Linked DNA regions of Homo sapiens. The protein of the gene in region 1 purifies or fractionates together with the protein of each later gene. This does not show direct contact. Each region holds a gene or a part of one and is shown in the gene's direction. Other genes may lie near its edges.

Evidence for each region.
Region 2: the proteins of YBEY (region 1) and TRMU purify together in Homo sapiens (affinity purification with mass spectrometry; 2 studies listed by BioGRID and IntAct, with this or other methods). This does not show direct contact.
Region 3: the proteins of YBEY (region 1) and TFB1M purify together in Homo sapiens (affinity purification with mass spectrometry; 2 studies listed by BioGRID and IntAct, with this or other methods). This does not show direct contact.
Region 4: the proteins of YBEY (region 1) and SIRT5 purify together in Homo sapiens (affinity purification with mass spectrometry; 2 studies listed by BioGRID and IntAct, with this or other methods). This does not show direct contact.

What each region holds. Positions count from the first base shown.
Region 1 is NC_000021.9:46,289,342-46,292,841, forward strand, and holds part of YBEY (endoribonuclease YbeY), read left to right. Parts: intron 1-1,992; coding exon 1,993-2,121; coding exon of another isoform or gene 2,122-2,148; exon of another isoform or gene 2,149-3,177; intron 3,178-3,500. UniProt on the Homo sapiens protein: Single strand-specific metallo-endoribonuclease involved in rRNA maturation.
Region 2 is NC_000022.11:46,338,714-46,342,213, forward strand, and holds part of TRMU (mitochondrial tRNA-specific 2-thiouridylase 1), read left to right. Parts: intron 1-3,500. UniProt on the Homo sapiens protein: Catalyzes the 2-thiolation of uridine at the wobble position (U34) of mitochondrial tRNA(Lys), tRNA(Glu) and tRNA(Gln).
Region 3 is NC_000006.12:155,283,485-155,286,984, reverse strand, and holds part of TFB1M (dimethyladenosine transferase 1, mitochondrial), read left to right. Parts: intron 1-1,707; coding exon 1,708-1,827; intron 1,828-3,500. UniProt on the Homo sapiens protein: Mitochondrial methyltransferase which uses S-adenosyl methionine to dimethylate two highly conserved adjacent adenosine residues (A1583 and A1584) within the loop of helix 45 at the 3-prime end of 12S rRNA, thereby regulating the assembly or stability of the small subunit of the mitochondrial ribosome.
Region 4 is NC_000006.12:13,595,101-13,598,600, forward strand, and holds part of SIRT5 (NAD-dependent protein deacylase sirtuin-5, mitochondrial), read left to right. Parts: intron 1-376; coding exon 377-464; intron 465-1,862; coding exon 1,863-1,916; intron 1,917-2,627; exon of another isoform or gene 2,628-2,764; intron 2,765-3,500. UniProt on the Homo sapiens protein: NAD-dependent lysine demalonylase, desuccinylase and deglutarylase that specifically removes malonyl, succinyl and glutaryl groups on target proteins.

The sequences.
Region 1 (3,500 bases):
TGTTTATTTGGGATAGAGCATTGCAGTGAAAATACATGCCACATGCCATAGTAGACTGTGTGGATATTCGCATATTCAGGGAGGTAAAGGAAGGCAAGGGTTTTGTTTTTTTTTTTTTTTTTGAGACGGAGGCTTGCTCTGTCACCCAGGCTGGAGTGCAATGGCACAATCTCGGCTCACTGCAACCTCCACCTCTCAGGTCCAAGCGATTCTCCTGCTTCAGCCTCCCGAGTAGCTGGGATTACAGGCGCCCACCACCACATCTGGCTAATTTTTTTTTTTTTGTATTTTTAGTAAAGTTGGGGTTTCACCATGTTGGCCAAGCTGGTCTAGAACTCCTGACCTCAGGTGATCTACCCGCCTCTGCCTTCCAAAGTGCTGGGATTACAGGCGTGAGCCACTGAGCCCCGCCTGGCAAAGGTTTTTAAAGGAAAAAAACATAATTGTTTTGAGATAATGATCCTTGGTTGCAAAGATCAATAACAAGATTAATGTCCGTCCAAGGTTAGACAGGCAGTTGCTGGGCAGATTATCCTTGCAGAAGTTTCTGTGTGCGTGTAAGGTTGTCATAGCCTTTGTGCAAGGTTGCAGTTTTGTGTGTGTGTAAGGTTGTCATAGCCTTTGTGCAAGGTTGCAGTTTCGTGTGTGTGTGTAAGGTTGTCATAGCCTTTGTGCAAGGTTGCAGTTTTGTATGTGTGTAAGGTTGTCATAGCCTTTGTTGCAGTTTTTGCCATCTTTAGTGACAGTTTTTGTTATCAGGCATGGAAGTATGAGAATCCTCTCTTCATAGCTTTCCCCAGCTCTATTTGTCAGGTTTTTTGGTTTGTTTGTATAACCCTAATGGCTCCATTTTTATTCTGACAAATTCCTTTTTTTTTTTGAGACGGAGTCTTGCTCTGTCAGCCAGGCTGAAGTGCAATGGCGCAGTCTAGGGGCTCACTGCAACCTCCGCCTCCCAGGTTCAAGCGATTCTCCTGCCTCAGCCTCCCGAGTAGCTGGGGTTACAGGCATGTGCCATCACACCTGGCTAATTTTTGTATTTTTAGTAGAGATGGGGTTTCACCATGTTGGTCAGGCTGGTGTCAAACCCCTGACCTCTTGATCTGCCCGCCTCGGCCTCCCAAAGTGCTGGGATTACAGCTGTGAGCCACCACGCCTGGCTATTCTGACAATTTTCACAATGGAAACAATTTAGGGCACTTGTGTACGGTTGGCTGGGCAACCCACCCGCCACAGGCCCAGCTGCCACTCTGGCCTGAGACATGCATCTTAAGAGTGATTTGGGTGGCTGGCACAGTGGCTCACGCCTGTAATCCCAGCACTCTGGGAGGCTGAGGCAGGCAGATCACCTGAGGTCAGGAGTTCGAGACCAGCCTGACCCATATGATGAAACCCCATCTCTACTAAAAAATACAAAAATTAGGCCAGACGCGGTGGCTCACGCCTGTAATCCCAGCACTTTCGGAGGCCAAGGCGGGTGGATCACCTGAGGTTGGGAGTTTGAGACCAGCCTGACCAACACGGAGAAACCCAGTCTCTACTAAAAATACAAAATTAGCCGGGCGTGGTGGCGCATGCCTGTAGTCCCAGCTACTCGGGAGGCTGAGGCAGGAGAATTGCTTGAACCCAGGAGGCGGACACTCCAGCCTGGGCAACAAGAGGGAAACTCTGTCTCAGGAAAAAAAAAAAAAAAAGAAATACAAAAATTAGCTGGGCACGGTGGCATGCACCTGTAATCCCAGCTACTCAGGAGGCTGAGACAGGAGAATCACTTGAACCCGGGAGGCAGAGGTTGCAGTGAGCCGAGATCGCGCCATTCCACTGCAGCCTGGGCAACAAGAGTGAAACTCCGTCTCAAAAAAAAAAAAAAAAAAAGTGATTTGGCTCAGAGATAAGTGCTTATTTGCCTTGGGATTAACCAGGATGAAACCTGTCAACCTGTGGTTGGGTTACGTTTCCTGTTCTCTAAGTCTACATTTCCTCATTTTTTAGCATCTGAAAGCAGGTGAATTTCCCCAGCCTGATTTTCCAGATGACTACAATTTGGGAGACATTTTCCTAGGAGTGGAGTATATCTTCCATCAGTGTAAAGAAAATGAAGATTACAATGACGTCCTGACTGTAAGCGGGGATGCTGAAATCATATAACCTGGCTCATGGAACATGGGCCTTGCAAAGGGGTCAAGATCACAACCCTGCATCCATGTGTGTCCGTGGGTACCGTAAGGGCTACTGGGGGAAGAACCTGTAAGCAGGGTGTGAGGAGCACCCAGGCTGGGTAGGGACTGCATGCCCCATGCCACAGTTGAAGGAGGGAGAGAACACGCTGTGAAAACACAGAAGCTCCCAGAGAAGCCTTCTCAGCTTTTATCTCTGGAGTAGAGCAGACTATGTTGAGCTAACACAGACCTGCTGAATCAGCTTCTTTCTGAGCTGCCAGAAGTACAGAAGTTGGAGCCTCCACCACCTTCCAGATCTGTTTCTCCTCAGTGTAATCCACCTATGGGTTCTTCCTGCCCACTGCACAGACAAAACCAATTCACTGCAATTGTGGTATTGCAGTAGAGAAAGAGTTTAACACAGAGCTAGCCAAGCAGAAAGGCTGGAGTTATTATTCAACTCAATCTCCCAGAGAACTCAGAGGCTACAGTTTCTACAGGCAATTTGGCAGGCAGGGGCTAGGGAATGCCTGCTGCTGATCGGCTGCAGACGGACCATGGGGTGTCAACGATTTTTGTCCCCTGAGTCCGCCTCTGCGTGGAGCCACGGGATCAGCTGAGTCATGAGTCTCAGGTCCAGGTGGAGTCTGTAGGTTGCCAGAACTCAAAAGTCTGAAAAACATCCCAAAAGACCATTCTTAGGTTGTACTATTGACGTTATCTTATTGGGGAGCAATTGGGGCGGTCACAAATCTCGTGACCTCTGGCTGCGTGAGTCCTGAGCAGTAGGGAATTACAGCAGGGCAAGCTGGGGAAGCAAGGCCTGCGGGCTGGTTCTCCTCAGGACACCTACATCTGAGCAGAATTCAGGCCCCTCCCATCATCCTAATCTTGTGGCCCTTCACAAGCTTCACAGAGGTGGCTTCGGTCTTGAGCAAGGAGGGGATTCGTTTTAGGGAGGGATGATTACTATTCTTGATTTAAAGTTAAACTCTAGATTAAATTCCTCCCGTGGTTAGCTTGGCCTGTGCCCGGGACTGAGTGGGGACAGCCACGCAAGTTAAACTCTAGATTAAATTCCTCCCGCGGTTAGCCTGACCCGTGCCCGGGACTCAGTGGGGACAGCCACGCAAGTTAAACTCTAGATTAAATTCCTCCCGCGGTTAGCCTGACCCGTGCCCGGGACTCAGTGGGGACAGCCACGCAAGTTAGACTCTAGATTAAATTCCTCCCGCGGTTAGCCTGACCCGTGCCCGGGACTCAGTGGAGTCAGCCACACAAGTTAAACTCTAGATTAAATTCCTCCCGCGGTTAGCCTGACCCGTGCCCGGGACTCAGTGG
Region 2 (3,500 bases), on another chromosome or scaffold:
GGACCGTTGTAAAGTTTGGCTGGACTTTTGTTCCTGCAGTGGAAGGAGTGTAGGGCTCATCCTCTGGTGAGCCCTGACTGTGATGAATGTCGGGCAGTTGTCGAAGGCGTCTGACACAGCAGGCCATGTGCGCGGGACAGGCTGCCCCTGCCTGAGTGGGCTTTAGGGGCAGAAGAGCCTTGGGTTGAGTCCTGACTGTAGCTTATTATATGACCTTGGGCAATTTACTTGACTTTGTTTTTTTAATTGAAAAAAATTCTCTTTTTTTCCTGCCAACAAAGACCCAGAAGAGATACTTGACTTTTCTAAGCCCCAATTTTCTCATCTTTAAAATGAGGATAACACTGATGCCTCACAGGGTTATGAAAGAATTGAGATTAGGTTCTAGTATGTATGCCTGGTATATTAGTAAGCAGTCAATAAACATAGCTGTTTTTCTTTTCTATTTTTTTTTGAGACAGAGCCTCGCTCTGTTGCCCAGGCTGGAGTGCAGTGGCGCAATCTTGGCTCACTGCAACATCTGCCTCCCAGGTTCAAGCGATTCTCATGCCTCAGCCTCCCAAGTAGCTGGGATTATAGGCATGCACCACCACGCCCGGATAATTTTTGTATTTTTAGTAGAGACAGGGTTTCGCCATGTTGGCCGGGCTAGTCTCAGACTCCTGACCTCAGAAGATCCACTCGTCTCAGCCTCCCAAAGTGCTGGGATTACAGGCGTGAGCCACCACGCCAGCCTGCTATTTTTATTTTCATTATTAAAAAGATGAGTCTGGGGAGCTAAGCTATGAGGACGCAAAGGCATAAAAATGATATAATGGACTCTGGGGTGAGGGATAAAAGACTACACATCGGGTACAATGTCCACTGCTTGGGTGACGGGTACACCAAAATCTCAGAAGTCACCACTGAAGAACTTATCCATGTGACCAAATACCAGCTGTTGCCCAAAAAACCATTGAAATAACAATAAAACGAAATTTAGAGAGATTAAGTAAATTGACTATGGTCACCTAAATAATCAACGGAAGAGCTTGAATATGAACCCTCTGTGACTCTATGCTATAACATATGGGTGTCGTATATATTAACAACATGGACAAAACTGATGGCTGAATTTTCCTGGGGAAAGTTACCTGTAGAATGCATGATAAATGCATTAAAAACTTATCTGTAGAATGCATGATAAATGCATTAAAAACTTCTGCAGTTTTCTCGGGGACATAAGAAAAAAAAAAGAGTGTGGCGGCCAAATACAGGATAAATCTGGGGGAAGACCAAAGGCAGAGAGTCTCAGGAAGTGCTGTTGCTGGAGATTTGGACTTCATGGGGAGGGAGTGTGGGAGTGGAAGGTGAGGGCTGGCTTGTTGGACCCAGAGGACAAGTCCACCGGGCAGTAGATCTGAGGTGCTTGTTAAACACAGACCTGGACCGAGGTCTGGGGGCGGCCCTGGAATCTGCTTTAATAAGCACTTCAGCTGTGCTGGTGGTGTGGGGGGTTGTCAGGGTCTTTCTTTGAGAAAAGGTGTGATGCGGCTTAGGGACTGATGTGTGTGGGAGACCAGAGAGGAGAGGAGTCAGCAGTAGTTTCAAGATCAAGGCTGGGTGGCTGGGGAAAGCTGGTTTAGGGGATTCCTCATGAGTACTGTAGAGTTTGAGGGGACAACAGGGAATCCAAGTGAGCTTACACTTCACCTGCCAGCACAGCTTTTTCAGAACGTACGAGTGGATGCGATTTTTGAAGTTTAGCTCAGCTGAGGCCAGATAGGAAGAGTGACTTGAATAGTATGGCAAATTAGGAGCGGAGCTGGGATTAAACCCCAGAATTAGGAGCGGAGCTGGGATTAAAACCCAGAATTAGGAGCGGAGCTGGGATTAAACCCCAGAATTAGGAGCGGAGCTGGGATTAAACCCCAGAATTAGGAGCGGAGCTGGGATTAAACCCCAGAATTAGGAGCGGAGCTGGGATTAAACCCCAGAATTAGGAGCGGAGCTGGGATTAAACCCCAGAATTAGGAGCGGAGCTGGGATTAAACCCCAGAATTAGGAGCGGAGCTGGGATTAAAACCCAGCTTTCCAGGCCAGTGCTTGCTGCCGCCTTCTGGCGCTGCTTGATAGGGACTGAGAGAAGGAGGCGGCCGGGTAGAGTCTTTTCCCATCTCTGGGGCTGCCCCCGAGGTCGCCCCTGGCTCCAGCCAGCCTGCCCTCTGCCCTCGCCCAGTACCAGCTGCCCGTGGAGGCATTGGTCTTTCCGCTGAAGACTCACTTCTCTAGTAGGGCTCTCTAGCTCAGAGATTTCTTTTGCATTCTTTCATTCAAGACCCACTGGCCTTCAAGGATCAGAGTCCAGATACGTTTTAGCTGCTGAGTCTTTTAAATCTGTCTCCCTCCCGAGGCACATGAAAGGCTTCTCTTCTTTCCAGTTAGAGAAGAGGCTGGGCTACTCCATTGTTTTTGCTAATGCCAAAACACACGCCTTCCCATCTGCTGTTTACGAAAGGGTTAACAGTGTGTCTTTTCAGAAACTGATTTTAATGTTCAGCCTCTTCAACATTTATTGATGACTGTGATATAGAAAGTTTGTTGGGTCTAGGACACAGACACAGATTGCACCTTAAGTAGTTTATAGTTTAATGAGCTTCCTGGTAACTTTCTAATAATTAAAGCAAAATGGAAAGAGTGTAATAATATCAAGTGTTGTTGCAAATGTGGAAAAACATGAGTTTTTATGAACTTCTAGGGGGACTGAGAAGTAGGAAAACAGTTTGGTGCCTGCTAAAGTGGAAGATATCCAAGGAACCTCTGACCCTGTGCAGATCTGTGATATGTCTGCAAAACACAAACCTCTTGATCAGCACTGGTTTTTTTTTTAACCCTTGTTGATTAATAGAGAGTTTTAGGTTAAATGAAAAAAATCACTTATACCAAAAATACACCCATTTTTAAACTCCCAAAATAGGCATCATAACCCTCTTGAAGTGAATCCTCGAAGACTATGAAATTCTTGGTAAGTTTTGCTGGTATCATGGCATCTTTTTCCCATGTTCAGTCAGTCTGTTAGAGCAGAAGTTCACTGAATTAGGATAGCCTGATCCACTTTAAGCACCCAAGAGTTTGCTAGTTCTCAGAAGTGTGTGTTTGTCACCTGAGGATAGTATTTTTGGTATATTTGCCCAGTGACGCAGCATTCCAGGCTGAGATTGCAGAATGGCTCATGGAGCCCTTGTGTAGGGAAGCCTCTGACTGTGTTTCTCCTCTGTTCTCATCACGGCAGTCATCCTCACGGAAGAAGGCTTCTGTGACAAAGGTGTGGGGGGTTTTCCCCATACAGCAAGCAGTGGACACCGACTGGGTGTCCTCTGATTCAGTTCCGATACCATCTACTTGGAGATAGTGCTGGATCCCAAAGGTTGGGGGTTCAGTCCCCCAGACGGACTCCCCCCACAACAGCAGTCGAAAGTATGGGCCTCTAGAACTTATGACCAACTGGCTTCCAGTTGGGA
Region 3 (3,500 bases), on another chromosome or scaffold:
TATTAGCTATTTATCTTATGATTATTGATGTACAGGAATTTCATCTGTATTCTGAACACTATAAATTTCAAATACTTTCTCTTAGTCTGTGACTTACAAACATTTATAATGTTTTATTATACAGAAATTAAAAATTTTAATAAAGTACAGTAGTTTTTGTTGTTATTGTTGTTGAGGAGGGCGTCTTGCTCTGTTGCCCAGGCTGATCTTGAACTCCTGGCCTCTGGCAGTCCACCTGTTTTGGCTTCCCAAAGCACTGGAATTACAGGCATGAGCCACTGTTCCCAGCCAAGATCAAAAAAATATATATATATGTATATATACATATATATATACACACACACACATATATGCACACATATATACACATATATATACACACATATATACACACATATACATATACACATGTATATATATACATATATATACACACATATATACACATGTATATATATACATATATATACACACATATATATACACACATATATATACACACACATATATATATATTTTGTCCCCAAAGCAAAGCTATATAAGAAAAGACATACATAGATACATATATTTTAGAAAGATGTATATACATACATATATACATATATGTGTGTGTGTCTGTCTGTCTGTCTTTTCTTATATAGCTCTGCTTTTACATCTTTAGGAAATTCTTCCCTACCATGGAAGTCATAGATATTTGCTTATAAAAATTTTAAAATTTTGCTTTTCACTTATTGTTAATTTGCTTAGAGTTTTTTTGGTTATGGCATGAGATAAGGACCTACTGTTTTCTCCTATGGATATCTAATTACACCGGTGTCACTTACCGAATGATCCTTCCTTTTCTGTTAGCAGTTGCTACATCGCATCTATCGTGTGTTAAATATCTAATGTGCTTGGGTCTGTTTCTGAGGCATTTGTTTTATTGATCTGTCTGGGCCTGCATCAATTTGATGTCTGGTAGGGTGAGCTCCCCTATCATTGTTGGTATTCTTCAGGAGCGTCCTGGCCATTCTTGGCCTTATATAAATTTTACATGGAATTTAAATATATATATAATACATATGGAAATTAATTTTTAAAATCTTGTTGGACTTTTAATTGAAATTGCATTGCATTTATGAATTAATTGAAATATACCTAATTAATTGCAAAACAAAAATGTTTGAGTGTTTAAAAGAATAAATTACTAGGTTTTACAAAAATTATTTGTCAAGAACAGCCAATTTCCCAAGGGTTCTGAATACTCAAGGTTTTACTATATTAAGTGAATTTGAAAAGCACACCATTTAAAATGTTCATTCATATATTGGGGTGATTCAGAAAATTAAGTGTTTAAGCATCTTTCATTTTTCATTATGCTTGCTAATTTCTTCATCAAGTATTTATTGATTGCTTGTTTTATGTAGGACCTTCTGCTATAGAATATAACAGTGGTTCAAAAATCCCAACAGCCATTGGTAGAGCAAATGTTCTTATTTTTGTAGTGCATTATATATGACATAATTCACATTTCTTAGGTGTACCTCAGTTGATGTTGGAGGAAAATATTCCCCATGTTTGCTGTGTGTCATGTGTCAGATAGCCCATTCTTTTCAAATTTGCCTCAAAAAGTCCACCTAGTGTTCAGAAATAATGGAATGTTGACTCTTTTTCATCTAATCAGGCTGGACTAATTATTTGCTAAAATTCATTTTTGTCTCTCTCTAGAGACTTGCAGCCAATACAGGAAGCAAACAGCGTAGTCGCCTCTCTGTTATGGCTCAGTACCTCTGCAATGTTCGACACATCTTTACGATTCCAGGACAAGCTTTTGTCCCCAAACCAGAGGTAAGTTTCTGCTTATTTGTTGTAGTATATCGGAATTAGGACGTTTGTTCCCCTGAGGATGTGTCATAGGAAATAACCTCTAGGATCTAACCTTTGTTTATGTGCAAACTGACACTGTACTTTACTTCTGAATAAGAACCACAAAAATCGTAATATGAATAGCTAGTTCTTACTATAATTGTTCTCCTTAGGTAGGGTGACTAAATGTTTAGGTTCATGCATGTTATCCTGGTGGCAGTATCATTCATCATCTTCATCTTCATGATGTTACTCTTAAAGTATCCCTGTATGGAAGATAAGTTACACGGTCACCCAATATTTGAGAAAAGAAATAAAATACTTTTGTGTTTTCTGTTAGAGACCTCTAACTAAAGCTACATCAAACATTATTTACTTAACACTTTTTTGGGAGACCTTATTATGGTAGTGTTATTTGTGGTAAATCATCTGTGGAAGAAACAGTTGGATATTAAACTAGGCTTTGATATTATATGCTAGTTATGTGAGTAAGTGCTAGTTACAGAAACAGAGTTTCTCTGCCAAAAATTAAAATTAAAAAAACCGTTGTCTGTTTTAGCAAAACCACTGCTTGGTGAGTTATTACAAGATGTGTACTATTAAAAACTCATCTTTTTCTTCAGTGAATGTATATTGAGCATTTACTGTTTGAAAATGCGTTGGGTAGCAAGGGGAGTCTACAGGGATATGAGCCTAATCCGATACAGAGTCTGCCTTCAGGGAGTTCACAGCCTCATGAGGAATAGAAATTTCTCACTGGTCCCTAAAACTCTCAAATATAAGGTCTTGCAGAGTGTCCCTTGCATCATGTATCCTTCATAAATAACAAGAGATAGCATGGAAAAAAATGCATTATGTGACTATAGATTTAGATATAGATTCTAGATTTAGAATGGAGACCCTAACCAATAGTGTTAGATCTACTTGTCTGTCTTGAAGACGCCTAAGTGATCTCCATGCTCTTTGCTGCCACCTTCATACTTCTTTGCCATTTGGCCAGTTAGCTGAGCGTTCAGGTGACTAGGAAGTCAGGCCATCTTCCCCTTACGTAACAGACATAATTGTCAGCTTTTTCTAAATCGAGCTCAGGGAGCTTGCTATCGGTGCCACCTCCCTTCAGCATCTCAGACTTCAGAGACATTGCGAATGACTTCTCCTAGAATAATTAGATCCAAGACAGAATTTGATGACTGGAGGTATCTTATAGGTTATCTTCAAATTTAAAACATTTGTGCTTTCAGGGACTTTCTCTCCTAGTACAGGTGGCCATTATAATGAAAAAAATAAAAATAAAAAACCAGTGACCATGTAGCTTGATTTCTTCTTGTCATGCACATGTGTGTGCATATAACATTTTAAATAGTGTAAGACTCATTATATCAAAAACCAAGATCCTTACTCATAGGCCTCTATAGTTATGGTTATGACCATTATCCAGAATCTCCAGGCTATTTAAGTTTTACTAACGGGTTCTTAGGATAGATATTCGAATATTTTTAGTGGAAGCTTTCTAACTCTGTTTTAGTTACCTAGTTGAGATTATTTGATGGAGTTTCGAAGTTATTATCCACTTTATCTTTGATTTAGTGGTAAGGTACATATGTAGTTTATCAATTAAAATTTACCTTCTCTGGGATTAAGGCCACAAGAAAATA
Region 4 (3,500 bases), on another chromosome or scaffold:
TTTATTTTTCCTCCAGATTATAAAGTCCTTGAGGGCATATGCTCTTGACTGGCTTAAGAGTACTGCATGCCTCTGTTTCCCATGAAAGCTAAAGCTAGGGTAGGCCCATTTGCTAAAATGAAGTATGGCTCAGTGTGGCGGTGCACACCTATAGTCCCAGCTGCTCAGGAGGCAAAGGTGGGAGGATCGCTTGAGCCCATGAGTTGGAAGCTGCAGTGAGCTATGATCGTACTGCTACACTCCAGCCTGGGTAACTGGGTGAGACCAAAACATGAAATGAAGTGTGAAAAATAAAGTATCTTATACCCTTTTAGACATGGAGAAGGTTGCTCTTGATTATACTAAATTCTGGATTTGCTTCATATGTATTTTTCAGGTAGCTTATTTAAAACTCGATGTACCTCTTGTGGAGTTGTGGCTGAGAATTACAAGAGTCCAATTTGTCCAGCTTTATCAGGAAAAGGGTAATTATACCACACTACAGAATAAGTATAGGTTGTTTTCTCCTTTAGGTTGAACATAAATGTGAGGAAATTGAACATTCATCAAAGATTCCCATGGATATTTATGAGAAATAAGACTAAATACAAGGCTGGGTGCAGTGGCTCATGCCTGTAATCCCAGCACTTTGGGGTTACAAGGTGGGGAGACTGCTTGAGTTCAGGAGTTCAAGACCAGCCTGGGCAACACAGTGAGAAACCTGTCCTACAAAAAAACAAAACAAAACAAAAAACCACAAAAATTAGCTGGGTGTGGTGGCACATGCCTGTAGTCCCAGCTACTAGGGAGGCTGAGGTGGGAGGGTTATTTGAGCCTGGGAAGTCAAGGCTGCAGTGAGCTGAGATCATGCCACTGCACTACAGCCTGGGTGACAGAGGGAGACCCTGTCTCAAAAAACAAACAAACAAACAAAAAAACTAAATATAGCCATGTGATAAAAGAAATATTTTGCTCACAACTTACAGTGTTAAGTGAAAACCACAGGGTCCTAAATTTGTACACACAATGAGTTCGTGTATCTGTATATAGTTAAAAGACCAGAAGAAAATACAACAAAATGTTAATAAGGAATATCAGGAGTGGAGGGATTATGGGTAATTTTTAATTTCTTCTTTATATCTTTCTGAATTTTCCTATATTTCTATTATGAACATGTACTATTATTACAATGAGGAAAAAATTTGAGGGTAGACACAATATTGAGAAAAATTCCACTCAGCCTTTTAAAAACAGTATAAATTGTATAAGGACTATATAATGTCATTGCAGAGGATACAAATGATGATGATGATGATGTATAAAGGTAAACATGAAGTTCCCCCTTGGCACACCCAGCCACTCCAGCCCTCCCCACACATGCATTCCCTCACTGGCAGTACAACCACTGGTGATTTTTTTTTTTCTGAGACAGGTTCTTGCTCTGTTTCCCAGGCTGGAGTACAGTGGCACAATCACACCTTACTGCAGCCTCCAACTCCTGGGCTCGAGCAATCCTCCTGCCTCAGCCTCCCAAGTAGCTAGGACTATAGGCACACATCACCACACTCAGCTAATTTTTGTATTTCTGGTAGAAATGCAGTCTTACTGTATTGCCGAGGGTTGTCTTGAACTTCTGGCCTCAAGCAGTCCTCCCACTTTGGCCTCACCAAATGCTGGGATTACAGGCATGAGCCACTGTGCCCAGCACCACTGGTAATTAATGGCTTGGGGTCCTTCCTTCTAATGCCCTTCCAAGTGAGCATGTATTAATTAGGAGTTTTATACCACATACTGCCAGGCAAATATACAAACTGAGTTATGTTGTTTCTTTATTTTTTATTATGCCAATAACAATCTTTCTTTTCTAATATTATTTACTTCAGTGCTCCAGAACCTGGAACTCAAGATGCCAGCATCCCAGTTGAGAAACTTCCCCGGTAGGTAGAAAACTCTGATTTGTACTGGTGTTCCAGGTTACCAAAACAAAAAAAAAAACAGACATCAAAACCTAAACATGTATTTGGCAAGACGCCTCTTAAATCAAATGCACAAATGTAAAAACCAGGCTTGATCTCTGAGACCAAAAGTGAAAGGACAAAGGATGAACCAAATTAGGATGAAAAGAATGATTTTTTTCCAACCTCTTTTTGCTTTGTGTTGTGGTAGGATCATTTGAGGTCGGGAAAGTTTCTGAAGCTGTCGTGCGACAGGTGGTTACCCAGTGTACAGAAAGCATAGGGGCTGACCTGTAACTGGTCAAATAACATCACTGGCATTATTAATCCAGGGTTAGGGAGGCAATGAAAGGACCTGAATAGGAGAGGTTACAGGACCAAACAGAATGTTCATAGATTAAAAAAAAAAAAAAAAAAAAGGAAGATTTTTATGCCAATTTTTCAAAACCAGGCATTAAAACAGCACTTCTATAACCTGTAATTGGATTAGAAGTTTTTTTGTTGTGTTTATTTTATTTTATTTTTTTTTGAGATGGAATCTCACTCTGTCACCCAGGCTGGAGTGCAATGGTACGATCTTGGCTCACTGCAACCTCCACCTCCTGGGTTGAAGTGATTCTTCTGCCTCAGCCTCCCGAGTAGCTGGGATTATAGGCGCCCGCCACCACGCCTGGCTATTTTTTGTGTTTTTAGCAGGGATGAGGTTTCGCCATGTTGGCCAGGCTGGTCTCGAGCTCTTGACCTCAGATGATCCACCCGCCTCAGCCTCCCAACATGCTGGGATTACAGGCGTGAACCACTGCACCCGGCTGGATTAGAGTGTTTTTAAGGTAAAATAAAACAGCACTTCTAAAAGTGTTTCATAGAACATTAATTTAATGTTACGTTGAGACATTACTTGAAAAAAACATGTTAGGCACTCAAATAAATATGGAAATGTTAGACTAAACAAAGTTAAAATATGTTTGCTTTACTGCAGGACTTTTTAGAGCATTTAATCCACATTGCTGCCTTCTAAAAAGTGGTTGTAATACGTATGTTAATGCTTTACTGGCTTATTTAACCACAGAACCTTTTAAATTTTCCTCATGAGGGTTTTAATTGCTAAATATTAAAAGTTTTCTTCTGAAGGAATAGGTAGACCTGGAGGATTCCTGTGATGCAGGAGATTACTATGATGAAAATGGTGTTTGGGGGATGGTTTTAGGAGGTGTATAGAAGGTAACCCTGAGGTAGGAGGGAGTGAAAGAAGAGAGATTTTTAGTAATGGACACAGGAAAGCTGGCTACATACTGGGCCAGAGAGACATGAACCTGAGAGAACATGAAAGGAGGTCATTGATGAAATTAGGGGATGCTTGGGGTGGGAGGCAAATCTGAGTCCAGTATGTCTCCCAGGTCTGGGTGGCTGTGAGCACAAATGTGAGCATAATGAATGAACTGGGAAAGCTTAGCTGAAACAATGTGTCAGCACATCAAGTACATACAGACAAGATAAAAAATAAGGACAGTTCTGCAGGGCGCGGTGGCTCATGCCTGTAATCCCAGCACTTTGGGAGGCCGAGGA